Homo sapiens: one gene and its partners. The protein of the gene in region 4 interacts with the protein of the main gene of each other region in a pairwise test. Each region holds a gene or a part of one and is shown on either strand. Other genes may lie near its edges.

Region 1 (7,498 bases), on a different chromosome or scaffold from region 4:
GAATATTTTAAAAGATACAGGTAAGCAACCAGATGAAGAGATACATAGGGCAAGGTCTGAAAGTGTCCCGAGCACCGGAGCTCTCGTTCCTGTGGAGTTGGGGTGTACTGCCCTCCCGGCAAGCTGATGAGTTCTTGTTTACCTTCTTGCAGGCCTCCATGAGTTTACCTGTCCAGAGGCTCTCTGTGTCCCATCCCCTTGGGCCTTTTATCAAGATGTCATTAGATAGGCAGGGCTATCATGGACAACCATGTAAAAATGTGATTGAACAAAAAGGGTATAATCTAACACTATTAGACTGAGTAGGGAAACCCAGCAAGGCCTGACTATTCAGATTCTTCTTGGCCTCTCTGTGCAGCATTTCTTCATCCTGGGTATGGGGGAGGACCCCTTCTGAATTGGGGTCTTATTGAGGTAGAGACCCACAGGATTTATTTCCCTGGTCCTGACAGATTAAAGTGAAGAAACGCAAAAACCAGCAGATGGCGACAAAAGCGATCTCTAGCTGCTCTCATTGCTCATTAGTATAAGACGCTCCCACCCAGTGCCACAGTTTACAAAATGCCATGGCAATGGCCCAGAAGTTACTGCTCCTTTCCTAGAAAGTTCTAAATAACCTACCCTTCAATTTGCATTAACCCACTCCCTAATTTGTGTGTAATTGAAAGTGGGAATAAGTGAGTATAAATATAGTTGCCAAGAGCTCATATGTTGCTGATTCTGGGTGCACTGCCTTTGATTTAGCCCTGCTCCACAAAGAGCAGTACTGTTCAAAAACAGGTTGTTGCCCAACACCACTAGCTCACCCTTGATTTATTTTTCGGGGTGAAGCCAAGAAGCCTCCCTGGCTAAGCCCCAAATACGGGAGCTTCCCATTCCTGCATCATTATGACCTACAGTCAGACAAGGTAAATCGGAGAATTTACTTATGGCCACCTCCAAGACAGAAAGGCAGGGGAAAACTAGAGTATATTTTTAGTTTATGTGGTCTGCCTTGGAGAGAAAAAAGGAGTAGGTGAAAGGAGAGCAAGAGAAGGTCAGGGAGAGAAATTCTGTCTTTTGAGGCCTGCTTCTGAAGCCTGAAAGAGCCCCAACATACACGGAAAGACAGTCTTTTTTTTTTTTTTGAGACAGTTTTGCTGTGTCGCCCAGGCTAGAATGCAGTGGTGCGATCTCGCCTCACTGCAAGCTCTGCCTTTCGGGTTCACGTCATTCTCCTGCCTCAGCCTCCCAAGTAGCTGGGACTACAGGCGCCTGCCACTACACCCAGCTAATTTTTTGTACTTTTAGTAGAGATGGGTTTTCACCGTGTTAGCCAGGATGGTCTCGATCTCCTGACCTCATGATCCACCCGCCTCAGCCTCCCAAAGTGCTGGGATTACAGGTGTGAGCCACTGCGCCCGGCCAAGAAAGACAGTCTTTTATGTTTATGGTTCTGAAGCTGTTCCGAAACAAAAGGCCAAATACTTTAATCAAAGATATGCTGATTGTTCTAGCCACTTAGGAAATAACAAAGGCTATGGGAATTATGAGCCAAAAACCACAGATGAATATGTGTATCTCACAGTACCTGTAAGTATAAAATAAAGAAAGAGGTTTTATGCACACCTTTTTTTTTTTTTTTTTTCAGAGAGACCTGCCTCGGCCTCCCAAAGTGCTGGGATTATAGGCGTGAGCCACCACACCTAACCTTTATCCACTTTGTTAGGGACAGAGTGGGTCTCTGGCTCAACAAAAAGCCCAGATAAATCAATGGGGCTTTGGCATATTAGGTCAGCAGAAGGGAAAAGGCCAGTAGAAGGGACAGCAGTATGCAGTAAACATGGAAGTACCTAGGGGAGAAGGAAGGAGACACAAAAGTTGGAGGCACCTGTAAGCCAACTGGACTTGTTTCTGAATACAGTTTAGATAACCTGTAGACACATCTATGCCTGACGGTATTCAGAAATAAAATCAGTAAAACTTTCAACACGACAGCAGAGCATTAAACCAGGAGTAGAACTCTTCTGACATCAGGGCCCTGTGCCACAGCACAAGTCATATACCTATGAAACCTTCCCTGGCTGTGTGTGTTGGCTGATAACAACTTACATCTTTTTTCGGGAGGAGTGAGGGGACAAGGTCTCACTCTGTTGTCCAGGCTGGAGTGCAGTGGTGCTGTCATAGCTCACTGTAGCCTTGACCTCCCGGGCTCAAGCAATTCTCCCTCCTTAGCTTCTCAAGTAGGCGGGACCAAAGTTGCGTGCCACCACACCCAGCTAAATTTGTGTGTGTGTATGCGTGTGTGTGTGTGTGTGTGTGTGTGTGTGTGTATGGAGATGGGGTTCTCCCTATGTTGCCCAGGCTGGTCTCAAACTCCTGGGCTCAAGCAATCCTCCTACCTCAGCCCCCCAAATTGCTGGGATTACAGGCCTGAGCCATACAACTCACATTTTACCTCTTCTCCAGGGAATTGTTCTCTGCCAAATGGGAGCCACCTTGCTCCAGAGACTATGCTCTGCTCCACCTACAGACTTTGATCTGTGACTGACGCTGAGCTACAAAAAGCCAGTGACTTACTGTCAACGTGGGATGACTTGTGTGTGCTTCAGAGTTTTCAGGTGCGATTAACTAAACTTAATCTCTAGTTAAACCCCATTCTTCATCACTGCCCTGCTCCCCAGCCCTGTCCTGCTGCCTTTACTTCCTTTAACCTGAGAGAGCATTACAAGAAACTACATTCATAAGGATCTCTGTTCCAAGTTCTGCTTCTAGGGAGCCCGACCTAAAATAGGAAGGGTCTCTTTATAGAAATATTTCAGCTAAAATCCCAAAAAGAGGAAAACAGAAAGAGTCTTTGCTTTCCCTTGGACAAACTTGAATTGAAATTGAACCCAAATTCCAGGATGCTTTTCTAGAATTAGTTACCATCTTATAGGAACCACAGAGTAAAGAGATAATGTGTTAATGACACCACTGAGATCCAGACTGTAGGAAAATACAGAACAAATGACTATTTCATCAATAATTAAAGAAAAAATTAAAAAATGAAAACCCACAGATTAAAAGAAATTTAGGAAATTTGGCAACCAATCAAAATGCGCATATCTTATTTGTATCTTGATTCAAACAAACTGTTAAAAAAAACTATAATACAATTGGGTATTTGAACACAGATTAGACATAAAATGATATTAAGGAATTGTGAATTATTAAATGTGACAACAGTATTGTGGTTATATGCTAAAAAGAAGAAAACCCTTATCTTGTAGATACATACTTTGAAATATTTATGCCTAAAGTGATATTATGTCTAGAATTTGCTTCAGAAATAATTTTAAGGTTGGGAAGCGGGTAAGATAAAGACGAAATAAGATTGGCCATGAGTTGTTAACTGTGGAATCTGAGTGAGGACTAGTACATGGGGTTTGCATTATACTATTCCATTTTTCCAAATGTTCGAAATTTTCCATTAAAGTTAAGATAAAGTTAAACTATAAAGACTGTTTCTTAAACAAAAAAGGGGCCGGGCGCTCACGCCTGTAATCCCAGCACTTTGGGAGGCCGAGGCGGGCGGATCACGAGGTCAGGAAATCCAGACCATCCTGGCTAACACGGTGAAACCCCGTCTCTACTAAAAATACAAAAAATTAGCCGGGCGTGGTGGCGGGCGCCTGTAGTCCCAGCTACTCGGGAGGCTGAGGCAGGAGAATGGCGTGAGCCCGGGAGGCGGAGCTTGCAGTGAGCCGAGATCGCGCCACTGCACTCCAGCCTGGGCGACAGAGCGAGACTCTGCCCCACCCCCCAAAAAAAGGAACAGAACAGAAAGGTATTAAGAAGAATTAGAAAAAAAATCCACTGTCCTTGACTCATTTCCTGTCCCCCCCCAAACGTTCTGGTGTGGAGAAAAGGATGAGCATTGGTAACAAGTACCACAGTTTGCCATTGGGGTGGGCGGGACTGATGCTCTCTTTATTTAAATTTTTGACATCTTGCTCATCATAAATTTTCTTGCAATAATTGTTTTTTAAAATGTTGCATTAAAATGTTATTTTTCTTGACTGCTGAGGAATTTTGCACCCCTTTAAATTCTGCGCCCGCGTCCTGGTTGGGAGATGTGGGGAAAATCCTGGGAGCCCAGGACAGGGAGAGGCAAGTCCCCACAGAAGTGGGAATGGCCAACAGCTCCCTGAGAAGACAGCTTCCCTCTTGGGGAGGCAGAGGAAGTCCCAAGAATACACAAAGACAGGAGAGTGGAAGGGCCGGCCAGTCTGGAGATACTAAAAGAGACTCCGGATGAGGATAGGGGCTGACCCGAAAGCCCCGCCTGACTCCGGGCTGCAGGAGGGGGCGTGGGACGGGGGCGGAGCCGTTGGCGATGACAACAGCCCCACGTGACCGGCCAACACTGAGTGTTGTCTCGCTCTGGCGTCAGAGCCGTCGTGGCTCGTTCCATTCTCGGCGGTGGTACCTGCTCCCGGTGGCCCTGAGGACGTGTGGGCCAGGGGCGGCCCCGAAATTAGGAAGCGGAGGGGGAGCAGGTAAGGAACCCGGCGGGGGGTCCCTGGGGTTGGTGTGAGGGAGTGGCTCCGGCCTGCGGATGCCCACCCCGGGGGAGCCGTGCGGAGAAGCAATCGGTCCGCGATGCAGCCCCCGGGCCCCGCGGCGGGCCCGCGAGCCTTCCTTGAGCGGAGAGGTGCCCGGCCCGGAGGGAGCCGGCGGTCCTGGGGCTACGACCCTTCGGAAACACCTGCCTACGCCATCAGCGCAAGCTTTTCCGACACCCCTGCCCCGCACTTCTTGGTGCAGAAAATGGTGGTCAGCTTGCGGGGCGGGGCGGCTGAGGCGGGGGGCGAGGGTGGCGAGGAGGGCCAGGGCCAGGGCCAGGGCCAGGGCCTCGGGGCGGGGCGGGGGAGGGGCCGGATGGCGGTAGTTCCTAGCTAGCGTTCTGCTGCAGCAGCCCCCACTTCCCCCACCCCGGCAGTCTGCAGGTCTGCGGGGCTAAGTGTCGCGGCGGCGCACCTCGCGTCAAGAATCCGGAGGAGGAGACTGCAAGGATAGGCCCAGGTCGGTGCGAGGGTCGGTGGTGAGGCGGGGGCCGGAACGTGAGGAAAGCCCAGTCTGAGACCCTAATCCATGCCTTCACCCTCGCCCCCCTCTACCCCATGCAACCCTCCCCTTCCCACACGCCATCCTCGTCCTCCATTTTGCTGCCTGCGGAAGCCTGGAGATGGATCTACAGGGAAAATGGTGGGCTTTGCGGAAGGGAGGGGCTCGGATTGAGGGCACCCCACAGGGCATACTGGCTTCTCAGGTGGAAAAAAATGAAATGTTAGAGTATAAAGTCAAGTCCAGGGCTCTGAATTTTAAAAGGTGCCTAGTAGGGCCTCTGTCCTCAGTGCTTATCAGTCCACCAAGAATTCAGCCCATTTTCTCTCTCTTGTCTCCTAGGAGTAATGGAGTCCAAAGAGGAACTAGCGGCAAACAATCTCAACGGGGAAAATGCCCAACAAGAAAACGAAGGAGGGGAGCAGGCCCCCACGCAGAATGAAGAAGAATCCCGCCATTTGGGAGGGGGTGAAGGCCAGAAGCCTGGAGGAAATATCAGGCGGGGGCGAGTTAGGCGACTTGTCCCTAATTTTCGATGGGCCATACCTAATAGGCATATTGAGCACAATGAAGCGAGAGATGATGTAGAAAGGTTTGTAGGGCAGATGATGGAAATCAAGAGAAAGACTAGGGAACAGCAGATGAGGCACTATATGCGCTTCCAAACTCCTGAACCTGACAACCATTATGACTTTTGCCTCATACCTTGAATCCTAAAAGTTTTCGCTGAGGTTAATGTGAACACTGCTTTACAAGCTTGTATTTTTGTGATTTACTTTTTCTGTAAGCCTTTTGGGGTTTACACTTACCAGTTTCTAATGGAAATTAGAATTCTAATTGAATATTGTTTTGTCTCAGCCTAAAAGTTACGGTCAGCATGGCAATTCACCTATTTTAGGAAAAATACTCTTTTCATAATATGAAATGCATAAAGCAGTTCAAAAAGCAGTCTGTATTCCATCATCTTCCTTTTTCATTCCAGTCCTTATTTTTGTAAGTATTACTTTTCCTCCTCCGGCTACCTGGACTCAAAATCTCAGTTGTCTTTGACAGTTTTTTTCTTGTCCCTGACCAAAAAAGAATGATCATACCCAGAATTCAATGTTTGATATTTTAAGAATGTATGTTCTAGTGTTTTTCAGAGTGAGTCTACCATCTGTATAAAAACACCTTGGGGGCAGGCAGGGGCATTTAAAAATGTAGGACCTATCGTCCAGACTCACAGAGTGGGGCTCCAGAATCTCCATTTTTAACAAACTCTCTTAAGTAATTCTGATGTGTACCAAAATCAGTGCCATTGGTGTGTGTGTACGTAACTATATACATATGTGTGTGTGTGTATATATATAATGTGTCATAACCGTAAACAATAAACAATATCAAGATAAATCTGACTTTGATGGGCAAGTAATTAAAAAAGAAAAGTATGAGACCTTAAAATAAGACTGATGATTATAGGAGTGGTAGGGACAGTGGCAAAGTTATTCACTGTGCAAAGCAAAACATGCCTGAAGGTCACAGCCTGAGGAACTCAGAATTCATCACCCCTGTCAGCAGTTTCACATCCAGGATCTCATTTTATTCTTAGAACAACCTATAAAATCTGTATTGTTATCCCACTTTTACAGATGAGGTCACTGGGGCTTAGAGATGTTAAGTACCAAGGCTAACTCCTGCTGAATATCTTGGGGGTGGGGGAATCCAGCCTGGGCCATTTTCTATTGGACCTTATCATCTGGAGATGCAGAATATTTGACTTTTGTAACTTGATGACAAGCTGAGGATGGTAAAAGAGACTCAGCAAGAATGGGGCTGTTTTTCTATACACTGTTTTTCTACATCTCAAGTACACTTTAATTTTTAGAATATTGAGGGATAAAAAAAGTAAGATCCTCTAGTGTTGTTCAAAGTTAGGATTGCCACTCTATGGCTCTTGAAATCAGTTTTGTGGGTTACAACAAGCAATTTTTTAAAAAGAGAACAAAAGTCATCCTATCACCCGTGAGTAGTGTTAAGAATTGTTTTGGAGAAAATAATGTGTTCTATGTAGTAAATATTGCCACCTTTATGATGTATTTCTAACTAGATCACAGTGAAAAAAGAATGAAAATCACTTATTTGGTGCAAACTTGGTTTCACAAGTGAAGAATTGTTAAGAAAGCGATTTTTCCTAAGGTCATACAGCCAATTAGTGAAAGCTGTGACCACAGCCTTGGTGCTTCAGGGTGCTTGTCTTCTCACCACATTGCCTCCACAAAGAATTATTTGGAAATTTTTGCATTATGTACTGATTGCCAATCAGTGTAAATGGAAAAGCATATACAACTTATGCAAAAATCACTTTATATGAACTTCACACTATTTAGTCATCAGAATTCCTGCATGTTCAACTGAGAACCACATTTAAGGG
Region 2 (8,152 bases), on a different chromosome or scaffold from region 4:
CATCTTCTAAGAGGCAGCAACTGTCTCATCCCAGAAAAACAAACCTATTACTGAGCAGCTGGCAAACCCTGGACTTGGCAGAGAAGGAGAAGAGAAGGTTTCTCTCATCATTACATGGTAGGGCCCAAAGCTGGGAGATTGGGCACCTTTGTGGAGCCACCACGTAGCCACCACACTTTGGCCAGTTTGAGCAATCTGTTGCTCACTGATCAGATGATGCTCTGACATCTGGTAAGCATGGTCCCAGACACAAATCTCAGGTGTTATTTCCAAAAGGTGACTTTGCTTCCCTGGAGATTCTTATACAAATCATGGGGCCCTCTGTAATTCCATGTGCTAATATGTAACAGGGCAGGGGGTTATACACCAAGTATTTTAATAAGTGCCGTGCAACTTGCTGCACTGTGGCAGGGGAGGTTAGAGGCCAAAGGTGACGTCCACTCTAATCCTGCTTTCCCCTGTGCCTGCTTGTGAGTCCTCTGTCCCTCTCCCTCATCACAGAAAGTTCTCAAACAGACCTCCCTGCAGACGGGGGCAGAGTCCTTTGGCTCAGCATTTAGGCCTCCTCTTAACTGGCACATGCCAACAAAATGGAAAACCTCAACAGAACTAAACAAAATAATTCTTCTCCTCCCTCAAGAATGACAAAGAAAAGTAGCTTTACAGGAGACATGTAGACAACCTACATGACCCTTTCCCCTCAAGTTCCCTATACTATACTGAACTATTTCCTTCCATAGCTGAACCATTGTGTTTACTTCTATCTGAAATCTAATTACGCTAAATATCAGAGCCCCCACAATTATGAAAATCTATGCCAGCAAAATATGAGGGTCTTTGTGGATTTAATTTTATTTTCCCAGATTCCTTATTTATTATTTTACAATAATGTCTGATTTTTAACTATTTTGCATGTTAGTCTCTGAGTAAAATAGAGGGGAAGAAAATATTGTATTAGGTAGCAAATATATGGACAACACTATAGCAGCTGTTTTTCACATGCTAACTCATTTAATTTTCACAATACTCTAAGGATGAGATTATAAATCCCATTTTAGAGAGAAAGGTGCTAAGGCTCAGAGAGGTTCACTAGCTTGCCTAAGGTCACACAGCTACTAGGTGAAAAATTGGGAACCAAACTCAGCACACTACCTCTTCCTGCCTCCTCTTCCTCCTGGTGCTCTTTTCACTATATTAAAGCAACAATATTATAAATTTGAGTAAGGGCTTTTCTGGAAGTGTTCTGCAGCTCAGCCCCATATAAATTTGGACTAGTCCCTGCCTTCTTTTGAGCCTCAGTTTACACATCTATAAGATGAGAGCCTAAGATGCTGTTTCAGGTCCTTAGGATGCTAACATTCCAAGATTCCAGCCCCCATGGAATTTTAACTAGATCTTCTTTCTCTGGCTCTTACTTTAGTTCTCTCCCTAAATCCTTCTAGCTTCAACCCTTTTATTCACCCCAACTGTCTCCAAGGGTCTCTTTGGCATTAATGAAGCCACAGTCTCACAGACCTTGGGGGGCCCACGAATCTGGCTGAAAATGAGCATGCACCTCTTACAAATGAACTAAGATGTAAAGGAAAAAGCAATTCTCAGCTCTGAATGGGACTGAGGTGGGAATTGAGGAGGCTTTTCACATCTGGAGCCCAACCATAGACTAGAGATCAAATGCCCAGGTCACAGCATTGGCCACCGCTCTCACTCTGTCATCAGACTGGCCCAAAGAACTTGAACATCACCTCGGGAACATTTCCATGGCCCTCACCCCAAGTCCAAGTACAACCTACGTTTGCTATTACACACATCATGCAGTATTATAATGTGCCTGTGTAACAAGCCTGCCCCAGTCCCAAAGGGCAGAGACTGTGTCTCATTCATATTTGTATTCCCAGTGCCCAACACCATGCCTGCCTCATAAAAACTACCCTGAATGAATGTGCAAACTCCCAGGTCTAACACCTCCTGGTGACAGAGATCACTTCTACCTTGCAGTGTGTCACCATGCCTCCCAGGGGGTTCTGCCCAGCCAAGTTAGGCAAGCTTTAGTCCCAAGCCTTCAGATGAATTGGTCCACGGAGGAAGTCTGGAGAGCAGGGACTTTTCAATTTTCAAAACCTTATAAGAATTTCTGCTGTCTTGCCTGCCAGAATCTTTCTTTGGCTCCCAGCAACATAAGCTGCATGCCTCCAACTGACAAGCGACAGGCCAGTTGGTCAGCTGTTGCTTCCATTTACTCAGAGCTGGGCGGCTGTACTGTTTCTGTCACTAAATCAAGGGATCCTTGGGACGGATGTGCTTGGGCGTTAAGGCAGCCTGAGGACCTAGTCTCCGGAAGCTTCTGTGAAGTGTGACTGGGCTGCCCTGCCTGGCACGGTGACTTGAATCTTCAGTTTGCCAATTCTCTAAGAGCCCCAACCCCCCATCCCCAGATCTCTACCCCCAGAGTGGAAGTGATTGCAGCAACTCTTGCAGTAGAATTGGGGGCAGCAGCAGGGGAGGAGAGAAGAGGCTATTAGCAAATCAAAGGAAAGAAAACAGGGGAAGGAAAACACAGTAGCAAATTAAAGCACTATGTTTTCTTTTTAAAAATCCAATTAAAGGGAAATCTGCTTTTGAGTAAAACAATCATGCCCTTGTTACAAAGTATCCCAGGAACCCTCAAGATAGGCAAAACCTTTTTAATCACATTTTTTCTCATTACAAGTTGGCTAATAGGAACATCATAGTAATTCCCCGTTAACTCTTCCACTTTTCACACCCGCACAAACACACTGGGTTATAACAATGCTCTTATTCTATCTTTGTCTCAGACACATTCTCAAGCATGTTGGTTTACTCTCTCCTTAGAATATCCCCGTATCCTCATTCTGATATGCAAACGTATCCTCACCTACAGACCATTCTTTCCTCCTCTCCTCTCTCATGCACGCGTGCACACACACGCTGAAACGCTATATACACACTATATATGCATATAAACATATATGTTCTCCTTTTAATTCAATACTAATCCAGTCATTCGTATTTCCCAATTTCTTCTCAGTCTCTCATACAGGTCCACGCAGTGAAGCCCAAGGGAGATACTTACCTCCATAGCCTGCGGGAAACTTCATGAAGTGAGAATAATTTCCATACATGTTTACTCGTCAGTTCATGTTCCTCTCCTGTGCAGCTTCTAAATATTACCGCCTCTCTCGGCTCCCAGGCACAGCCCGGCTTTCTTCAACTTGGGCTAACAAGAGTGGTCATCGCTTCCTAGCAGCCCGGGGAGCACAGGCTGGGCCAGCCCTCTGGGATTAGTCAGGAATCTGCCTCTAGATCGGAGAGTCCACATAGTGCGTTTGAGACGGCTGTGGCGGCAGCAGCTGGTGCCTGTCAGTAATCACGCATAATGCTGCCGCCGCCGCCGCCGCCGCCGTCACCGCTACTCTTGCCACCGCCGTCGCTGCTGCTTGAGATCCTGTTGCTAGTTTGATTAACTCAGGGTTGGGCTGCTGCGTGCGACTCTTCCAGCTCCCGGCGCGTCCCCAGAGGTCCCTACCGGGTGGCACGATCTATTATCTAGGAAGCCAATCGATGTATGACCGCCCGGTGTAGGTCAGGAGAGAGGCGGGAGACGGCAGGGGATGGAAGACTCTTTAGGTGCCTGTTCCTTGACTTACATCCACAAAAATCAATGGGATTTTATTAAAATGCATTTTCTCATTCGAACTTCTATCTGTCCAATGTACTTGGTATTTGATCTGTGAAAGGAGGAGGGGGTGGGGTTCAAGAGAGAACAGGGCCCTTTCAGAAGCACAAGATTAGAAAAGCGTGATACTCAATCTCCAGCTACGGAAAACTAAAATAGAGTAGCCCTTAAGTTGAGGTGGGCCTCTCCTGCTTGGGTGGCCGGAAGCATTTATCTGTGCTCTAACAATGGGAGTTTGACAAGTGCAGCTGGAGCCAGAGCTCACTCAGGTGGAAAACTTACAGGTAGGGAGGAGGGGTTGGCTTGATGTGGAGGTCTTTCTCTGCATTTATTTTATATACCATTGTTATCCTGCCGCCTGTTCAAAAACACCACTGGGTCCTCACTAACACAGAGCCTGTCTTGTGTGGAACTGACCCGAGATCAAAGAATCTAAGCACCCCGTTGATGTTTGGGTCTGTCATACAGTTTTCGTGACAAGTCACCGCTCAGCCTATACTTGAACACCTCCAATAATGGGGAGCTCACCACTTTCTCATTCCATTTCTAGATAGTTTTCACCACAAGAAAGTTTCTTATAGAGATAAAATCTGCTCCTTTTCCCTACAGCTTCTGCCCACAGGTGCTAGACTGCTCCCAGGGGCCACACAAGAGAAGCCTGAAAGACAAAAAAGTCTTTCACAGTGGGATCCTCTGCAAATCCTGAGATTGATCTGCTGTGCCCATAATCCCCCTTTCCCTAGGCATCTCTGGCTCTTTCAGTAATTCTATGTATCACCAAGGGTTCATGTCTATTCCCAACCTATCCTTTTTCTAATAATGTACTTCAGTTTACATAGATACCCTCACAGTGAGGAAGGGGGTTGGCCAGACTTGGATGCAATACTCCAGATATGGTCCAAACCTTTTCCTCATGGTATATGTGTTGGCACGGTGATGGGGTGCTGTCAACATACCCATTGAAGGTCCGTTTCATGGGCTGAGCTCTGTTGGGCTGGAAAAAAGATAAGAGATTTTCTCCTGATGCAGCATAAGACATAGAGAGCCAGAGAGGTAAGTCAAATCAGGGTCCCAGAGTAAAAAATCAAGATTCAAATGCTAGGAGAAGCCAAAACAAAAACGTAGAATAAAAGACCAGAGTCAGGAACAAAGTCATGATGACAAAGGAGGAGGCCAAAATGGGGAATCAAAGCAAAAGCATGTCACAAAGGAGGAAGAAATATCCAGGCCTTCACTGTAAAGAGCTTTGGAGAGCCCAGAGCTGCCTTGACTGTTGCTGGGATGAGAGTCCAGTGGACATAAGTAATATAGAATACAGGAGGACCATTTGCTCACTTGCATTAGGTGGGCAGCTCTGCATGTTAATTCATGTAGAACTAACTCGATAAAAATCTCCCCACCCCTACCTCCCCTAAGTTGTGTTCTCTTATGCATATTCTTCATCCCATCCTTGGGCAATTGGTTTTGGGACCTACATGAAATGCTTCCTATATTCCTCTGAAGTTAAAACTTTTTGGCTTCATTCATCATCCCAAATCTTTTAGGATCCTGCTTCTGTTGTCCAAAATATTTCTTATTCATACCCTTATTTCATGACTTCTGAAAATCTGATGAACTGCTTTTTCATATCTTATTCGACTCATTGATAAAAATGTTGACATAGACATAGCAAAGACAACATCTTATATCACTAAAAAGTCCATTCATTAGTGCCTTAGACACTTTGCTCTGCTACTCACTAGTTATATGGCCTTGAAAGGCTATATGTATAGTAAAAGCACCAACTCACCAACTCACAAGCCAACATTGCTGGGTACAAATCCCTGTTCCGCTGCTTACAGCCTCATGATACTGGCAAATGAGTAAATCTCCCTGAGCCTCAGTTACCTTATAGGGTTACCATGAGGATTAAATGAGTCAATACATGTTAAGCACTTGAAATACGCCAGATAAATACTAAATGCTCGATACATGTAATCTAATTTGAGGCAAATGATGGGGAGGAGGAGGAGGTCAAAGAGGAAGAGGATGTAACCTTAAGCAAGTCACTTTATGGCTCCTCTCCTTTTTCTCATTTGTAAAATGATGGAGCAGAGCTACATGGGTTCCAATATCATCTTCAGCTTTAAAACTGAACGCAGACTAATGCATCACCCATTCCATAATTGTCCATTTTCTCCATAGTGGTATCTGAAGCAAGTGTCTTACAATCTACAGTTTTCTATTGTACGCATGTCAGAGAAGGAAATGAGTTACTTAAACTGTTTTTTTGTGTGTGTGTGAACCCATGTTTCAAGGGTTTTTCCAAGTACTCAAGTACTCAAAAACCATTCTTTAAAAATCACAGTCTACAGACTTGTCCAAGGTCATTGTCAAGATGATCTGTTGGTTAAGCCACCAACAGATAGACTCTTTCTTCACCTTTTTCTAAGTTCAGTACATTGTCTATTTCTTTTCCTCACAGAAGAAAAACCAAATCCTAACCTGGCATGGAAAAGGCTCACCATTTGTGGGGTGTCTCGGCCTATCATGTGAGCTCTATGTAGAGGAAAGTGCTTTGGGGCAGTAATCACAAGGCTTGGGATACACACTCTCTGGGAAAAACATCCATGCTGCCAGCCTCACTAAGGTTTCTGGATTTAGTTTTGATTTTGTGGATCAGATGTGTTGAGAGTTGGGCACGTGCTCATTTTTACACTGCGAAGTTCTATACAATGGCTTTGTAAAACAAATGCAAAGAATTAATATTTTCCTGATTTTCTTTCCTCCCTTTCTCTGAGAGTTCCTTCTGATCTGGCTGTTTTGCCCACTGTAGGGGTACGGTATGTTCATTCCAACTTCCGGTTTGATATAGTTTGGATGTTTTTCCTCTCCAAATCTCATGTTGAAATGTGATCCCTAATGGTGGAGGTGGAGCCTAGTGGGAGGTATTGGATCATGGGGTGGATCCCTCATGAATGTCTTAGTGCCATCCTTTTGGTGATGCGTGAGTTCTTGCTCAGTTAGCTCTCAGGGGATCTGGTTGTTTAAGAGTTTGGGACCTCCCCCTCCACTCTCTTGACCCCTCTCTCACCATGTGACACACCAGCTCTCCCTTTGCCTTCCACCATGATTGAAAGCCTCATGGGCTTCACCAGGAGCTGAACAGACACTGACACCATGCTTTTTTTTAACAGCTTGCAGAACTGTCAGCCAATTAAACCTTTTCTCTCTATAAATTACCCAGCCTCAGGTATTTCTTTATAACAACACTAAAAGGACTAACACGTAGTTCATTGTTCATGCCCATTTACTTTTTCTCATCACTAAAATTCTTACCTATCATTCAAGTTCCAGCTCATTTCCCACCATGAAAACACTTATCCAAAAAGATGTCTCCCTAACCTAGGTCTGATAAAACTTATTGTCCAGTGTGTTCAGGTGACACTTAGTATGTATGGCCTTGTGGCATCCCCAGTGAAATGGCAAGGAATGGTTATTTATCTTTCCTTTGAATATGTCTTATCTTCATAACATGATTGTTAACTCTTCAAATATAGTGATAATGTATTATGTCTCTTTGTTTTCTCACCTAAGTGCTAAAACACACAGTAGGTGCTCAACAAATATTTCTGTATCAAAAATGCTTGACATAGTCAAATACATCAAAAACAATATACCAAACGGTACCCCAGTATGCTTTTCTTATGATACCTTCCATATGGCTTAATACCCCATAACAAACCATAAGCTCTGCCTAAAGATCAACAAATATGAATGTGGTTTTTTCTTTTTAACCCACTTTTTTTTTTCTTGGCACCATTGTGTCTTCCCTAAGACCATTATTGGTATAACAACGTTATCCTAAGTGGCTGGTATTTCTAACATAAGCCCTTCCCAAACAGCTCCACTGACTTCAGTCACAACTGTGTCTCCAGCTGTTACTGAATTCTCATTAGGATGTCAAGTGAAAGACCAAATGCTCAAAGTCTACAGTAGGAATTAGCTAATTCATTCACAAGAATTCTTGGCCTACTTCTTGTCAAGGCTAGTTAACTAGTCCTCTTAAATAATATGTTCTACTTTTACTAAAGCCATTAGTGCCTTTGAATAAGTGGAAAGAGCATGGATTTTGACTAGTATGTTTGGCTGTTTGACACAAATTCGGCCAATAATATCTAATATTCACCCTGGTAATCAAAGGATATAGCTTTACGTCTGCTCTTTTTTTCTCTTTTGACCCGTGGTGATATAAAATAGTATTTTGCAGCAAATACAAATGAAAAACCAAACTCATTCATTTGACAATGGCCAATAAACTTTAGCTATAGAATTTAGATGCAAATATCTCCATACTAATATTATGTATTAATATTTTTATATTTTTATAATACCTTACCTACATAATAGTACATTAAGTTTCCATGTGCTATCCCCAATACTAGACTTAAATAGGGCAGGCTTTGTTACCCCAGTTTT
Region 3 (8,752 bases), on a different chromosome or scaffold from region 4:
ACTGATGTAAGTGGAAGATGCATTAGACTAGAAGTCAGGTTCCTTGGGCTCTTGTCCTGCCTCTGACTGAATTGGTCACGTCCCCTGGCTGCACTCCTGGCTAGAAAGGATCAGTTTTAACACTGTGTGTAAAAATGTACCTTGCTCTCTCGCATAGGCTGGAGTGCAGTGGCGCGATCTTGGCTCCCTGTAACCTCTACCTCCCAGGTTCAAGTGATTCTCCTGTCTCAGCCTCCAGAGTAGCTGGGATTACAGGTGCTCGCTTCCATGCCTGGCTAATTTTTATATTTTTAGCAGAGATGGGGTCTCACCATGTTGCCCAGGCTGGTCAAAATGTATCTTACGCTAGCGAAACTGGGAAAACCAGACCCTGTATTCCCCTCCTTTATGTGTCCACCGAATATTGTTTTATTGTTCCTTATAGTTTTGAAGAAATTTTCATATGGAAGACAATGTGAATTCTGAATACATCTGAGCCTCCTGGAACTTATAAGCAATGCACACCTGAGGCAAGTCACAAGTGGTGCCGGTGGTTTCCATACAGATTGGAGAATGTGAAAGCATTACACCTTGAGAAAGATTGCTGACATTCATGGTATCCGATTCTGACATGCTTTCTACTTTTTCATGAGAAGTATCCACTTCAAAATGTACAGGATCTGAAGGTGATGACCAAAATTTTTGATAGTCCTTGTTCATAACTGTTGAACAATAGAAGACTTCTTTAAAAAAAAAATGTGTCTATTAGTAGGTATAAACAAAAAGTTTTTTCCCTATCCCTCTTCTCATTAAGAAAGTAGCAAAGTTCACTGCCCTTATTTGAAATGTCATTTGTCAAGTTATTAGAAAAATTAAAAATTTTAGTCTGAGTATACCGTAATTTGGTATGGTAGTAAATACTGATTTGGAGAAAAACAAACAGTATTGGCTACTATCCAATAACTCCCTAGAAGGCTTTGGACCTAGAAGTGAAGGGATCTCTGTGTTATTTAATCAAGGATATTTACAAAATATTATCAGAGACCTAATAGTTTCCACAAAATCCTGGATTTTTATTTACTTGATACCTTCCACTTGAACACCTCACTACCAAGTCAAACCCAGCATTGTAACTGTTTTCCCTCCTCACTTTCCTATACTGCGCCTATTCCCTCAGGTACATGTGTTTGAAAACTGGACTTGTCTTGGCATCCCTCTACCTCATCATGCATGGCTATTCAGATACCAAGTCCCGTCCATGTCTCCTTTAAAAATGTCTTTCAGGGCCGAGCGCGGTGGCTCACGCCTGTAATCCCAGCACTTTGGGAGGCCGACGCGGGCGGATCACGAGGTCAGGAGATCGAGATCATCCTGGCTAACACGGTGAAACCCCATCTCTACTAAAAATACAAAAAAAAAAAAAAAAAAAAATTAGCTGGGCGCGGTGGCGTGTGCCTGTAGTCCCAGCTACTCTGGAGGCTGAGGGAGGAGAATGGCGTGAACCCCGGAGGCAGAGCTTGCAGTGAGCCGAGATGGCCCACTGCACTCCAGCCTGGGTGACAGAGCAAGACTCCATCTCAAAAAAAAAAAAAAAAAAAAAAAGTCTTTCAGTAACCTGTGCTTTCTTTCCATCCCATGTTGCCACACTGGTCCATATTCTCCTGACTTCCTCAGGCCTGTCCAGAGCTCCAGAGCTGAGAGTGGAAAGGATGGCCACTCACATTGATTCTATAAATTTTTGTCCTTCCAGGCCATCCATAGCCTGGAGTGACATCCCCTACCCGGTACTCCCCTGCTCTACTCAGATCAGGCTCATTTCCCTGCAGACAGATAATGTTCCTTACGAATTAAGCTTCAGTCATCTGCCCTGGCACGTGCTTCTCTCCTAAAACCTTCCCATCTACCCATTCATCTATTTTCAAAATTCCTACAATGTCTTCAGTCTCTAAATCTCTATCTTACAATTCAGCACTTGGTGATTTCGTTTACTGTTTTAGAGCTTCACCACTGTTTCAAGGGTGTTAGTGTTTGTGTTTACAGATCATAAATGTCTTGAGAGGAGCATACTTAGGGCTTTCCAATATCCCCTACTGCAAATGGACCAGTGCTGTCTACACAGCAAATATTGATTGAATAAAACCTGCATTCCAATGACTTATTTCTATCAAGCTCTTTCAATTTATAGTCATTACTCATCTGCCTGGATTCTTTTATTGAATTTCTGAATGAATAGTTTATTGAAAATTAGTTGTTTTCAAACCTATGTCATCACTTGGTAAAATATAAAAAAGTAAGCCAAGCAGACCAGTCAGGATCAGTGAAAGGCCCAACTTTATGCTCACTTCTCCCTTGTCTTTCAAATAATGCTGCCTGGATTGTGGTGAGATCTGAAAAATTCTTGCTTTGTTTTCCCAATGCAAAAAAGCGCAAAGGCCTTGTTTCTTAGTTTTCTTGTTTGTGAACCCAGCACTTCCAATTACATTTCTACAACTTTGTTCATCCCTCATGTGGCACTGCACAATCTGCCAGTTTACCTTTTTAATTTAAAGTTAGACTATTTTTTCCATCTTTCATTTGTCCTTACAGGTTTATGTTGGATTTTTAACATATTTATCAAATGTTTGAATAGATGTTCCAGAGACATTCTAAAGCTGTTTTAAGATAGGAGTTAAAAGAGGTGTCACGGGAGTTACTCGCAAAAACTATAGTTTTGTTTAAAAGCTTTTTCAGTTGTAAGACAAACTTTACCTTTTTAAAAAGCACTTATCTCATTCATTTTTCACCTCAAAACGAGACACCAAACTTTTTAAGACACAAAAGTGTGCTCACTTCCAGGATCCATAGTTTCTTGGACCCACGCTACGGACCTGGCTCTCCCTCCCTCTGCACCGGGTTTTGTGGGAGGGAGAACGCTTTCCAACCTCCTCCACCAAGGACTCTCACAAACTCGCAATCGGGCTCCCGGAGTGCTGGAACGCCCCTGTGTGACGTCCGCCCGCGCCGGGGGAACTCCGCAGAGACAGGTGCAGCCCGCGAGGCCCGAGCGACCCTACTGTGGGTGCGGTGTCTTCCCAGAGAGTGGTGAAGTTAGGAAGGTACGACCCCCTAGGCCGAACAGCCTGTGGGCTAGCTGGCGCCTCCTGCCGCAGTAAACACAAAGTGGGGTACAGAAACGAAAACTCCGGGAAGAAACGGCCAGCACGGGCCTCGCCGTGCCGGCTACTCAACACGCCTTCCTGAGAGCACAGAACATCCACAGCCCTATACAGCGCGCCATCCAGAGAGCTCCGGACTCCCAGCTCGGCGCAGGGGCGGGACTTCCGCTCAAGTCAGACTTCCGGGCGAGGCGGTGAGGGGCTTCCGGTTGGGGTGGCAGGGTGGTGGATCTGTCGGTCCCGTTTTCCCGTCGCACGTGGTGGCCACTGTTGGCTTCTGAATGGTTTGCAAGGCGGATATCCACGCCAAGGCCTTTGGATCGGCCGTGGGTACATCCGTCTGAGCCGTTCCTTTCCATCGCAGAGCGGCGGCCTCCGGCGGCGCTCTCCAGTCATGGACTACCGGCGGCTTCTCATGAGCCGGGTGGTCCCCGGGCAATTCGACGACGCGGACTCCTCTGACAGGTAGGCGGCCGTACAGTGCCCTGGCTCTGGGTACGGCTCTCTCCTTGACCGCCCCCTTGGGGTGTGGACTCTTGTTTGCGGTTTAGAGGGAGACTAGTGGTTCATCACTCAGCGTCTCTCTTGACAACCCTTTGCCTGTTTCTGCATCCCAGCTGGGTTTTTCTCCCAGTTCACGCGGCAGAGTTAAGTGAAAGCTACTTGTCAAGGGAGTCTGCGGTTCTCAGGTCGGTTAGCGTCACTGGGAGGCAGAGTTGGGGATAGCGATTAGGAAACATGGGTTTTTGCGTTTTAACCACATTTAGCGTTCAACAAATACTTACTAAGCACTTAATATGTACCACGTTCTGTCCTGGGCGCCGGAGGTAACAAGAAGAACCAACTTCCTGCTGTCATGGAACTTTACCTTCTACGTGAAAGAGAGGGCACACCATTTAAAAACCAAATAATGATGTAGACTATGCAAATCGTTTGATATACCAAGTGGTGACTGAATGGGTAGGGAAAGGTTAAGTCCAGATTTGAATGACAAGGAGCTAATCCTGGCAAGAGCAGAGGGAACAGCATTTCACACAGAAGGGACAGCAAGAGCAAAGGCCCCGAGGCCAGAGTGCCTAGAGCACAGTGGAGGTAGTTGAGAAGATTGGTAGGGTGATAGAGAAGTAAGAAGGGGGGCCAGATCATGGAGACCTTTACAAGTGATGGTGAAAAGTTCAGATATTAATGTGGGTCTTATGGAAAGCCATAGGAGGGATTTTAGCAGAAGAATGACATTATTTGCTTGGTGATTTAAAGGAATCATTCTTTCTAGGTAGATGATGTTCATGGAGGGTGGGAGTGGAACAGAGAGACCAGTTCAAAAATAATAAGGTAATCAGATTCAAAGATGGTGGGGACTAGAGCCCAGATCCTAAAGATATGTCTTGGAGGTAGAAGTGGCAGCGTTTGGTGGTAGACTGGACGTGGAGTCTGGGGAAAGAGGGATGAAGGATAACTCCTGCCTAAAAGCAAAATGAAACATATTGGAGTTATTTTGGAATTCCAAGAAAACAGCTTGTACTTTATGTTTACAGTAAGGATTCATCACATGCGGATTTTGTTAATTATTGGGGATGTTTTCAATAAATATATGTATGTTGAATGCTTTCTGTGAGTCAGATCTAGTCTTAGGTGGTAGGGAGGCATTGGTAAATACCATCCTGAATGACACAGAGCTTGCACCCTAGCAGGGGAAACCGATATTATTAAATAATTAGACTATTTGTATTCGAATTGGGTAAGTAGTACAAAGGAGAAGTGGGGGAAAAATAGGGAAGACTTCCTTGAGCAAGTGATAGTGAGCTGATACTTGATGGATGAGTAGGGGTTAGCCAGAGAAAGAGGAAGGGCATTCCAGTTTTATGGTTACGGAGAAGTGTACAAAAAGCTTTAGAGAAGAAAAGCAGCAGAAGAAACACAGCCAGCATAGCTAGTGGGTAGTTAATGGTAATGAGAGGGCACTAATTTACCATCCACCCCAGGGTATTGTAAGGATACACCAGTGATTTTCCATTGGGGAAGATGTTGCCATCCCGACTTCTACCCAGGGGACTTTTGGCAATTTCTGGAGACGTTTTTGTATGTCACAGCTGGGGGTGGTGGTACATTAGTGGCATCTGGTAAGTAGAGGCCAGAGATATGCTGCTAAAAATCCTACAGTGCAGAAGACAGTCCCCCACAACGAAGAATTATCTGGCAAAGTTACAACTTTAACATGCCACTCTAGGCAATTATATATCAATCTGTGGAGCATATGTATGAAGTCCTGGTAAGTAGCAAGTGTTTGATGATTGTCTGTTTTCTTCCTCCACATGTCCACGGGGAACCCTCAGAGCCATGGCTAATTAATAAATTGGGATTGATAATCTGAATTTACTTAAACTCGTCTGTTTTTCAGCTGGTATCTCATATTATCAGCTGCTTTTTTATGGTTTCTGTCCTTTTCTGTACATGAGAGGTAAAAACTGAGTCCTCTGTTGAATTTGGCCTGCAGACATGTTTTGTTTGGTATGCACAATTATTTGTAAAAATTGACTATGCCAGTGAAGGGATAGATTTTACACAGAAATCCAGACTTACAGCTTCACTTGAAAAATTAAGATCTGGTAACACTAGGCCTGAATTCTAATATGGCAAAAAAAAAAAAAAAAAAAGCCCTTACTGGTTGTGCTCCCTTTACCTTGGACCTCTTCTCCCAGTTTGCCAGTCCCCACTTCTATTGTGCAGCCTACTTCTCTCATTTGTAGTGCCTGGTCCCTGTATTCACCATTTCTTCCCATCATGAACAGGGATGATTTGGATTTCTTTGTGGAACACAAATCTTGATGTAACTTCTTTTATTGCAAAGTGTTATCGAGTTCAAAGTAAGACTGCCTTAGACTTATTCCCAAATTTTTTGTCAGAAAGCTTTTTTTTTTTTTTAATTACAATTTTTTTTAGAGACAGGGTTGCCCAAGCTGGAGTACAGTGGCACGATCATGACTCACTGCAGCCGTGAACTCCTGGGCTCAAGCAATCCTATGGCCTCAGCCTCCCGAGTAGCTGGGATCAAAGGTGTGAACCGCTGCACCAGCCTTTTTTCCCCCTTTCTTTTTTCTTGTTTTACAGAAAGATTTTCCTAGAGATTTTCTAAAGCAGCTCTGCGAATGATTTTCCTAGAGTCAAGTCTGGTATACTGGTCTGAGTTGTTTATTCAGCAGAGAAGATAACAATATAATTTCTAACTTTAACAAGGCAGAAGCAGATTTAACTTGATGTGCTTCTTGAATAGTAGGCTTTGGGCATGGAGAATGAGCAAACAACTGCAACAGAACTGGAAAACAGGAGAACATGGTTTTAAGGAGATGGAGCTTATCGGAAGGTGTATTTTATATAAATATATAATCTTTTAGATTTATCAATATTTTAATATCTTACATCATAAATATGTGAGATCAGTTAGGGTATGTGGAAATATTGTTATGAAATAATAAAACATTGTTATTTCTAGTGAAAACAGAGACTTGAAGACAGTCAAAGAGAAGGATGACATTCTGTTTGAAGACCTTCAAGACAATGTGAATGAGAATGGTGAAGGTGAAATAGAAGATGAGGAGGAGGAGGGTTATGACGATGATGATGATGACTGGGACTGGGATGAAGGAGTTGGAAAACTCGCCAAGGGTTATGTCTGGAATGGAGGAAGCAACCCACAGGTATTTTATAAAGGATCCTGCACATCTTTATGTAGTCTGCTTATGTCTACTTTTTTAAAAGGCTGTTTTGTGATTCTGAAATTGAATAACTAAAAGATTTTCTTCATGTTATATTGTCCTGTAGCCTCAGCCTTTACTGATTTTCACTTTTCATCCTTTCTGTATTTCTGATAATTTCCTGGGTGTGGATTCTTTCCAGAATCTGTAAATTTAAAAAGAGTTATAAAGATTGTGAGCTTAAAATCTTCATGGGAAAGGGCATGGATTGGCAGTTTACTACAAATAGTTAAGAAACATGGTAAAAAAGTTCAGCCTCATTGGTAATTAAAGAAATGCAGATTAAATTTGTAGAGATGCCGTTTTTTCACCTGTGAAACTGTTAAAGACAAAACATATCATTGATGGTCAAGTAAATAGGTGCACTTACTTGTAGGATAAGCTGGTATGTGATAAAAACTTTAAAAGCTTCAAAATACTTTGACTTAGCGATTCTGTGAGTGTGCCAAGACTTAGTTACAAGAATGATCCTCCAGGATTGTTTATGGTAGAGGAACATTGGAAGCAACCTTGAACGGGATTAAACCTGCTATGGGACTGATTCGCACAATGAGGCATTATACAGCCATAAAAGATGTTGTAATGGAAGACTGTATTAATGAGATAGGAATATGTTTGTGATTATTTACCATGTACAAAAAAAAGTTACCAAACCACGTACAGCTGCTGCTCATACTGGAAGTACCAAGTGTGTTAGGAGTTTGTAAGGCCATAGGATTAACATGGTACATCTTCCTGGAGCATAAAGGTTAATCCAGCAGTCTTCCTTTGACCATTAAAATGGCTATATCGGCTGGGCGCAGTGGCTCCTGCCTCTAATCCCAGCACTTTGGGAGGCCGAGCTGGGCGGATCACCTGAGATCAGGAGTTTGAGACCAGCCTGGCCAACATGGCGAAACCCTGTCTCTACTAAAAACACAAAAATTAGCCGGGCGTGGTGGTGGGTGCCTGTAATCCCAGCTACTCGGGAGGCTGAGGCTGGAGAATCGCCTGAACCCAGGAGGCGGAGGTTGCAGTGAGCCAAGATCACACCACTGCACTCCAGCCTGGGCAACAGAGCGAGACTCTGTCTGTAAAAAACAACAACAATAAAATGGCTATATCATGGACCAGAATGTGTGCATTTTAAAATAACCACATTGTGAGTGACGACAAATTTTGCATTTTTATATCGTCTTGTTCTGGTGACTCCTTCACTGATTCATAATGAGGCTTTGAGCAATTTCATTATTGAAGTTTGCGCATAGCACCAGCGTAAGTGCTGAGCCTCGTACTTAATATTTCCCTCTCTTGAGACATTGGGCCCAAAATGAAATTCTGAACCAGCTTAATGCTGGTCTTAGCTCTTTATTATATACTTTGGGGGTAAATGAACATTCTCAAATTTTAAGTCTATAAACCAGTCAAATTAGAAAACTACACTTAATTTTAATCTGTTACTTATAATAAGAGGAATCATAGAGAAGTTAAAAAAACGGATTATGCAGACTCTTTTAGTCAGTAATTTTAACCTTCTGTTTCAAATGCTCTTTAAAAAATTTTTTGAGCCAATTTGATTGACTCTTACCTTTCCTTAAGATACTCCTCTAAGTATTGATGCTTTAATAGCTAAGTATGAACTAAGGAAATGTGATGATGAATCTTAGGTTTGTTTTTACAGCTAGTGCCTTAGACTCTGGAATTCCCTTCTAGGCAAATCGACAGACCTCCGACAGCAGTTCAGCCAAAATGTCTACTCCAGCAGACAAGGTCTTACGGAAATTTGAGAATAAAATTAATTTAGGTGAGTTTACAAAATACATCACTGGGCTAAGAGGACATTTTTCAAAAACCATGGAGTGTTGTATAATTTTATTAGATCAAGAA
Region 4 (6,502 bases):
GAGTAGAGCAGAGTGACAGCTACATCAAGGAGTTCCCAAATAAAAGGTCAGGCAAAGTCTTCCTAAGGTATTGTTAAACCTTAGTTAATATAGCTATTGGGATTCTTGTGAAAACGTGACATTGGAGAGGGGAGTGGAGAGACTGGCCTTGAATTTCTTCCTGCTGGTGAGGGATGCCACAGTGCCGTGAGACTTCACTGTTATGGTATAAGCAAGATGCTTTCTCAGATGTTTGCATATGAAATGGAATATTTTCCCCCTTCAGGAAAAACACATGCATGAGGTAATATGCCAATCAATGTAGCTTAAGAATTCTGCCCCACTATTAAAAAAGTTTTGAAAACGCTGGATAGATTTTTGCTGGGGACCCCACTTTCATCTATTTTCAGACTCTCTAGTCACTCCTTAAACCCCAGCGAATATGTCTTTACAGAGACACTAAACGTTCATGTCTGCAGTTTGGCCCGAAAAAGCAGAAAGCTGTTCCTTACTGCCCAGTTATTTCTAAATAATAGAAATAACCTAATGGCGCTGTGGAATGGGTTTCCAGAGATTACGATTTAGCCTTTCATCCTACCTGCCTTCTTTATGCCCTATCCTGCTGAGGCGTATGGATTCCATTCCAGGCCATAATCATCCAGATAGCTGACTTTTGCTATAATTGATGTCAGTTTTTATGGATTTTCTGCATTAAGTGTAGAACTAAGTGGCTTTTACTTTAAAAGTAGTCAATTAGCCCCAGCTTGCTGGATGCCACTGTGAGGTCACATTTTTGCCTGTCGCTGGAGAGGACAGGACCACAGGAGCAACCTAGCTTTCCAAAGCTTTGGTCATCCGGAACCACAAGGGGTAAGACTTAGTGTATCTAAAGAGAGCTGGGTATCTTGTGACCAGTTTACAGGCAGCTCCTCTCAGTCCTTCTTTGAATCATCTTAGAAGTAAACTGCTATAAGAAAGATATAATAAAATAGCGAAAGTAACTGAATTGAGGGAGAAAGAGATATTATGGGACTGCCGGGAATAAATGTCATTGAGCTCATGAAGAAGATTTGAAACCCATGGCTGAATAAATCAAATCTCCTACAGAAAAAAAAATGTTAATTAACAGGAAGAAAAAAAAATGGAAACCAAAAAAAAATTTCAAGAACCTAAAGAAGACAAAGTGACGAGTGAAAAGTTTCTTAAAAGCCATTGTGAGCTTTAATGGAGAGGCTAGGATTACAGATAATGTAATAAACCTTCTGTGAGTTATGGCTTCCTGAAAGTCTAAATGAAACCTTACCTGAAGAAAGAAAATTAAGTGTATTGATTGCATTTTGCCCTTAGGTTTTCGAGACTGGGTTCCAAAGGAGCTTCAAAGAGTGGGCTGTGTGGAGCTGTTAAACACGGTTCAGAGGCGAGTCCGGCCCAAGCTCCATGTGTTTGGTGGAATCCATGAAGGTAAGAACAGCGGAAAAGAATTCAAAACATTTTGTGCCCCTGTCCACTATCTCAGTCTACAACTAGGAATAAGTGGAGTAGTTGTTTTCAAACTTTTTAGCAGCGGGACCCTTTTATAAGATGAAGTCTTATGAGAAACATCTGAATATAAAGCTGATAAATATTTTATATGGACCTTCTCTCTTGTAAACAGAGTGGAAAGTAGGAAGCACGTCTGGTCTACTAACTGCAAACCCTGCACTCCCCCTGGCAGCTTCTGGAATCTCAGGGCTTTAACGAGGAATGTTTGATAACCACTGCTTTAGAGCAACCCCAAGGTATACAAGGAGTCATTTTCTCCTTAAGAGAGTTAGAAGAAATGGTCTGGATATTAGAAGCTATTTTAAGCCTCTATAGTCCCCTCCTACCTGTAAATATTGTGTTTCATATGGAATTAACACAAAGACCCAGGAAGACAAGGCATTCTCTGAAAAATAGCTTAGGACATGCAATGAAAGATATGTAACAGAAGTGGCGGGAACCTGCACATTTGCAGGTAGACTTTTCCTTACTAACCTCAGAAAACTATTTCAGACTTCTCAGAAATCATCGGAGCTATTAGCTCAGGCTGAGGTTAAGCAGAATAATTAAATCTCTCTTAAATAGGAACTGGTCCAGTTGCCATTTTTCTGCCTTTCAAGGTAAGCTGAGTCAGGTTCACAGAACCGAAAGCCTAACAGGAATCTTCAAGGGATCTGGGTTTTCTCCGACCTGCCTTTTTCAAATCATGGGTAACTGGGCTTTGAGACAGACACAAAGCCCTCTTTCAGCAAGCCTAAGGATTTCTGTCCCTAGCAGATTTTCCCAGTTACACACGCTTGTGTGCAATGGCCGTGTTTACGTGGGCAGCCGCTATATTCTCTCTAGCTCCTGCTTATGGCAGCTCTCTGGAGTTACTTATGAATATGCAGTCAAGTTGAGGTGTTTAAGGCTGTGTGCCTGAGGAAGCAAAAAACAAAGTTTGCTTTTTCAAAGCCCACAAATTCAGTGGCTTCCTGGTTAGGTGGGTAATAAAGAGCATATTGAAAATCATCCTACTGAGGCCAGAGAAAATTCAGTTTGCTCCAAGGGCAGGTACCAGCTGAGTGGGTGGAAAGCAGGGTGCAGCTCCCAGAGAGTGGATATCGGCCTGCCCTGGCTTTGAGCTATGCTCCCTGAAAAGGAGGGTACTGCCCTAAGGTATGATGGAGGGAACACCAGTGATGGGGGAATGCCTGGAGGGGAGACTAGGGAGGTGGGACCTCATATCTAAACTAAGCAACATTTCTGGAGGACTGTTATTCTGAAAACAGGTCTGAATTCGTGCAGCATGCCTATGAGTTTGCATTTTATCTTTGAAAAAAATCATTAATTACCTTTAAACTAGCCAGACAATTGGGGAATTCCACTGAAGCCCCAAAATAATAAACTTGCCTAAAAGGGAGGAGATCATATTCATATAAACTTGTCTCACTTTTATTCACTTAAGACAGCTGAAGAGGGCAGGAAGAGGGCAAATACCAACCTCTTGATGGAGAGAGATAACAAGACTTTATGACCCCAGAACTAAACAGCGCAGATTTTAAATGCCTCTTTTCTTTTCTTAAGAGATTTTTCCATTGACCCTCATTAAGTTCTCCACAGGCTTTACTTGGAGAAATTTTAGCCAATGTGGAAAAAAGCCTTTTCAGTTACTTCTCTATATCTTGGTAATTTTATTTTTTTCACAGCTATGTTTTTATATGCGATAAGAGCCTGATACCAACATAGAATCTTAGTTGAAGAGGCTATAAGGCAAATATAAGGTATTCAGGGAAATGTGCCAACTTGCAAACATGCTAAACATTTTATCATATTGAAAATTATCAAAGGAACATATATACCAAAGACCTAGGGAAACAACTTTCTCCCAATAAATCACAAAAGGTTTATATTGCATATGGGAAGTGTTTTTGCTTGATCTAGTATCCAGGTAAGCTTAGGAAACAGTGACCTAGGGTGATGTTTCTACACATCACTTCGACATGTGATTAGCTGACACTTTTGAATGAAATGGAACTTAGTATTAAAGCCACACAATTCAAAAATCATATATGGTTGACTTTCGTAAAGGCAGTTAAGAGATTATTTCATAAATAAGTAAATTGAGTGTCTACATTTCTTAACTCTCAATGCAGTATCCTTTCCCCCCTCACCTGCCCCATATCCCACTTGGAATTTAGTTGTGTTTGCCCCTGAGGAGTAATCCTTATATTACTCATTTTATTCCCTAGAACTCAATAGTTAACACAAGGCTTTGAAATGAAAATCCTATTTTAAAAGGAGGAAAAAAGTTTTTCTTTATTCTCCCTAGTAAAGAAATCACAGCCCTTCTTCAACAAGTTTAGCATTTAAATAAAGAAAAAAAAATTGCTCTTAGTTGAAGGAGAAGATTCTACCATTTAAAGAAAATAGAGTAAAATTGGGCAGTAGCTTCTGAAAGTCATTATATCTGAGGAGGCTCAACTGAATTTCATCTCACTGCCCACTGACAAAAATTTTTTGTTTTCCTTGCCTGACAGCCCTACATTCCATCACTCTCATTTGTATATATTACAGTAAATGTGACACGCTCTCCCCACAGGTTATGGCATCATGACCGACGGTTACACAACGTACATCAATGCCTCGACGTGTACAGTCAGCTTTCAACCGACCAACCCTCCAATTATATTTGACCTTCCAAACCCACAGGGTTCCTGAAGCTCTAAATGCCCTATTGGAATGTGAGGGAAGGTCTATAAACTGCCATTTTTCTAATTATAAACTTACATTCTCTTACTTATTTACAAACCCTGTGAGTTCTTTTTGTAAATTGTTGGAACACAAATGATGCTAGAGGTTGTGCTTCTTATTTTATTTTATTTTAAATGGGGCATCCATTTGAAATCAGAGGAACATTGTGAATTTGTAAAATGACTTCTGTTTTCTCAAAGGCCATGCCATTGTAAATTGTTAGTGTTCGCCAAAGGACAGCCAAGCTTTCTTTTAAAAAGTGATAAAAGTCTTATTTTAATATGCTTTAAGCTGAAAGAAAAAAAAATAAGAAACAGGCAGTGTTTTAAAAACCAACACAGATTTGCACAACTGTTTAAGAGTATTGTTTGAAATATTTTAATTTTCAATGTTTTGTTGTTGTTGTTTTCTTGGTAATGCTTCTTTTTTGCAGATGTGGTCCCAATTTATAGCAATCTTCTCAACAGAAGTAGGCATGGAAAAGACTTCTTTTCATACTCTCACTATAAAGAAAGCTGCATTGAGAAGAAAATGGCTGTCATTTAAAGGATGGTTTAACTAGTGAGATTCCTATTGTGGTTATACAAGGTCTCATTGTTTGTTTGTTTCTTTTAAATTATTTCAGCTTTAAAAATACAGAAATGGAATCTGTCAAGAGCAGGTATTTCATACGGTTAAAAAAATGAACATGCAGACTCCTTTTCAATATGGGTTTATATATATAAGTATTTTTTGTGTATTATGACTACGTTAGGAGTTTATTATTGTCAAGGACAGTACAACTGCAAAGGGATGCTGTATAGCAACACATCAGAAGTCGGAAGGAACTGACACATTCTCTCAGAGCTCAAGGTCTTAAAGAGCTTGAGTTAAATCTAGGTACAGTTACAGGCATGTATAGACTTAAATGGATGCAATGGAAGCTAACTAAAATAAGGCTTAGTTGTCCTTTCTATTTAAATACCCCAAGTTGTCTTCTTACTTCCTCTCCCCTCTCCCATTTTGCACTGTGTGTCGATGCAATCTTCGCTAGCACAAAATATTGTCGCTAATAGTCATTTCTGTTTTCCCATTGTAAATGCTGTTGAGCTTTATTCTATTTTATGTTACTTTGTTAATGAAATTTAGGAAAGCAGTTGTTTCTTTAAATTTATTGTGATATTCTATATCTAGCGGCCTTTATATGCAAATAAAATTGCAAGATTTTTAAATTCGTGCTGTTTAGAGGGTTGGATGGTGGAGGATGGTAGTTTCGTCCTGGGGAAGGAGGGATTTATTCATATGCAACATCAGTAATGCCTTTCAGAAGAATTAGAATAAGTGATTTTTTTCCCTAATTTTCAATAAATTTTTATTACCCACCATTCACAGGCTGGCAGATAGATCGATAAGGCACTCAGTGTACTCTTTCCTTCCATCATGCTGTCATCTGTCTTGCCTTAGGTTTCATCTTTGGCTGTTGTAATTTCTACAGGAACAGAGAGACTGGAGTTAAGGCTGTGGATTTATTTTGGGCAAGTTTGTGATAGTGAGTTTGGGGAAACCGTTGATGACAGAGTAATCACTGCACATTCTCATTTTCCCCAAGAGCAGTCACCATCTCCTCCTCACTTTTGTAATGATGCCCACCCACAAAATGCTGTGGCAACCAAGAGGGGATAGCAGAAGGGTGGCGAAAACCAGAGAAAATAAAAAAGACATCACCCAGAAGAACCACTGAAGCAAAACAGCATAATCTTGGATCTGCAGTGCACCCTCAAAGTCTTATGTGTCAGGGCTCATTGGATTGTATTCTGGATATATGTTCCTTCCTCCCTACCTATTGTGGATCCTTTGGCGCAATTTCTGAAAGGTGTTCTTGATTTCAGTACCAGCAGAATTGACAGAATGTTCTAAGCCAGAATTCCTGCTCAGAGTCACATGTAACCATCTTGGTCTGTTGTAGTTGTTAATAGTTATTAAGTATCTTGGATGTCACCATAGGCTGTGTTGGACATTTGGGTCCAAGCTTGCAGAGCAGATGCTTGAGCTTCCCATGGGCTTCCCAGAGGGAGCTCATGACTGTTGCAGCTAACATGGACCGAAAGAGGTGCTATGACAAGTGGACAACACTTCCTTGACCTTCTACATCAGTAGAAGAGGGTGTTCACTTCAAGCCCCATCCTAGGGGGTTGGAGTGAGAGGTACACTACTGAATGGAAATTTCACCTGGTTAGTGTACTAGAAGCCAGAGACTCAGGCCTCTGGCTTCTGGAAAAACAAGCCTCCC

Evidence for each region.
Region 1: the proteins of MPPED2 (region 4) and BEX4 interact in binary tests that used the Homo sapiens proteins (3 or more experiments, as listed by UniProt).
Region 2: the proteins of MPPED2 (region 4) and RXRG interact in binary tests that used the Homo sapiens proteins (3 or more experiments, as listed by UniProt).
Region 3: the proteins of MPPED2 (region 4) and CAGE1 interact in binary tests that used the Homo sapiens proteins (3 or more experiments, as listed by UniProt).

The regions. Positions count from the first base shown.
Region 1 is NC_000023.11:103,210,719-103,218,216, forward strand, and holds BEX4 (protein BEX4), read left to right. Parts: upstream 1-4,389; 5' UTR 4,390-4,520; intron 4,521-4,963; 5' UTR 4,964-5,046; intron 5,047-5,430; 5' UTR 5,431-5,435; coding exon 5,436-5,798; 3' UTR 5,799-6,528; downstream 6,529-7,498. UniProt on the Homo sapiens protein: May play a role in microtubule deacetylation by negatively regulating the SIRT2 deacetylase activity toward alpha-tubulin and thereby participate in the control of cell cycle progression and genomic stability.
Region 2 is NC_000001.11:165,441,754-165,449,905, forward strand, and holds the start of RXRG (retinoic acid receptor RXR-gamma), read right to left. Parts: upstream 3,374-8,152; 5' UTR 3,141-3,373; coding exon 3,092-3,140; intron 1-3,091. UniProt on the Homo sapiens protein: Receptor for retinoic acid. Retinoic acid receptors bind as heterodimers to their target response elements in response to their ligands, all-trans or 9-cis retinoic acid, and regulate gene expression in various biological processes.
Region 3 is NC_000006.12:7,386,475-7,395,226, forward strand, and holds the start of CAGE1 (cancer-associated gene 1 protein), read right to left. Parts: upstream 3,269-8,752; 5' UTR 2,728-3,268; intron 723-2,727; 5' UTR 700-722; coding exon 505-699; intron 1-504. Other genes in the region: RIOK1 (serine/threonine-protein kinase RIO1), read left to right, coding at 6,389-6,495, 6,625-6,829, 8,579-8,669.
Region 4 is NC_000011.10:30,409,166-30,415,667, reverse strand, and holds the end of MPPED2 (metallophosphoesterase MPPED2), read left to right. Parts: intron 1-1,326; coding exon 1,327-1,440; intron 1,441-4,081; coding exon 4,082-4,200; 3' UTR 4,201-5,444; downstream 5,445-6,502. UniProt on the Homo sapiens protein: Displays low metallophosphoesterase activity (in vitro). May play a role in the development of the nervous system.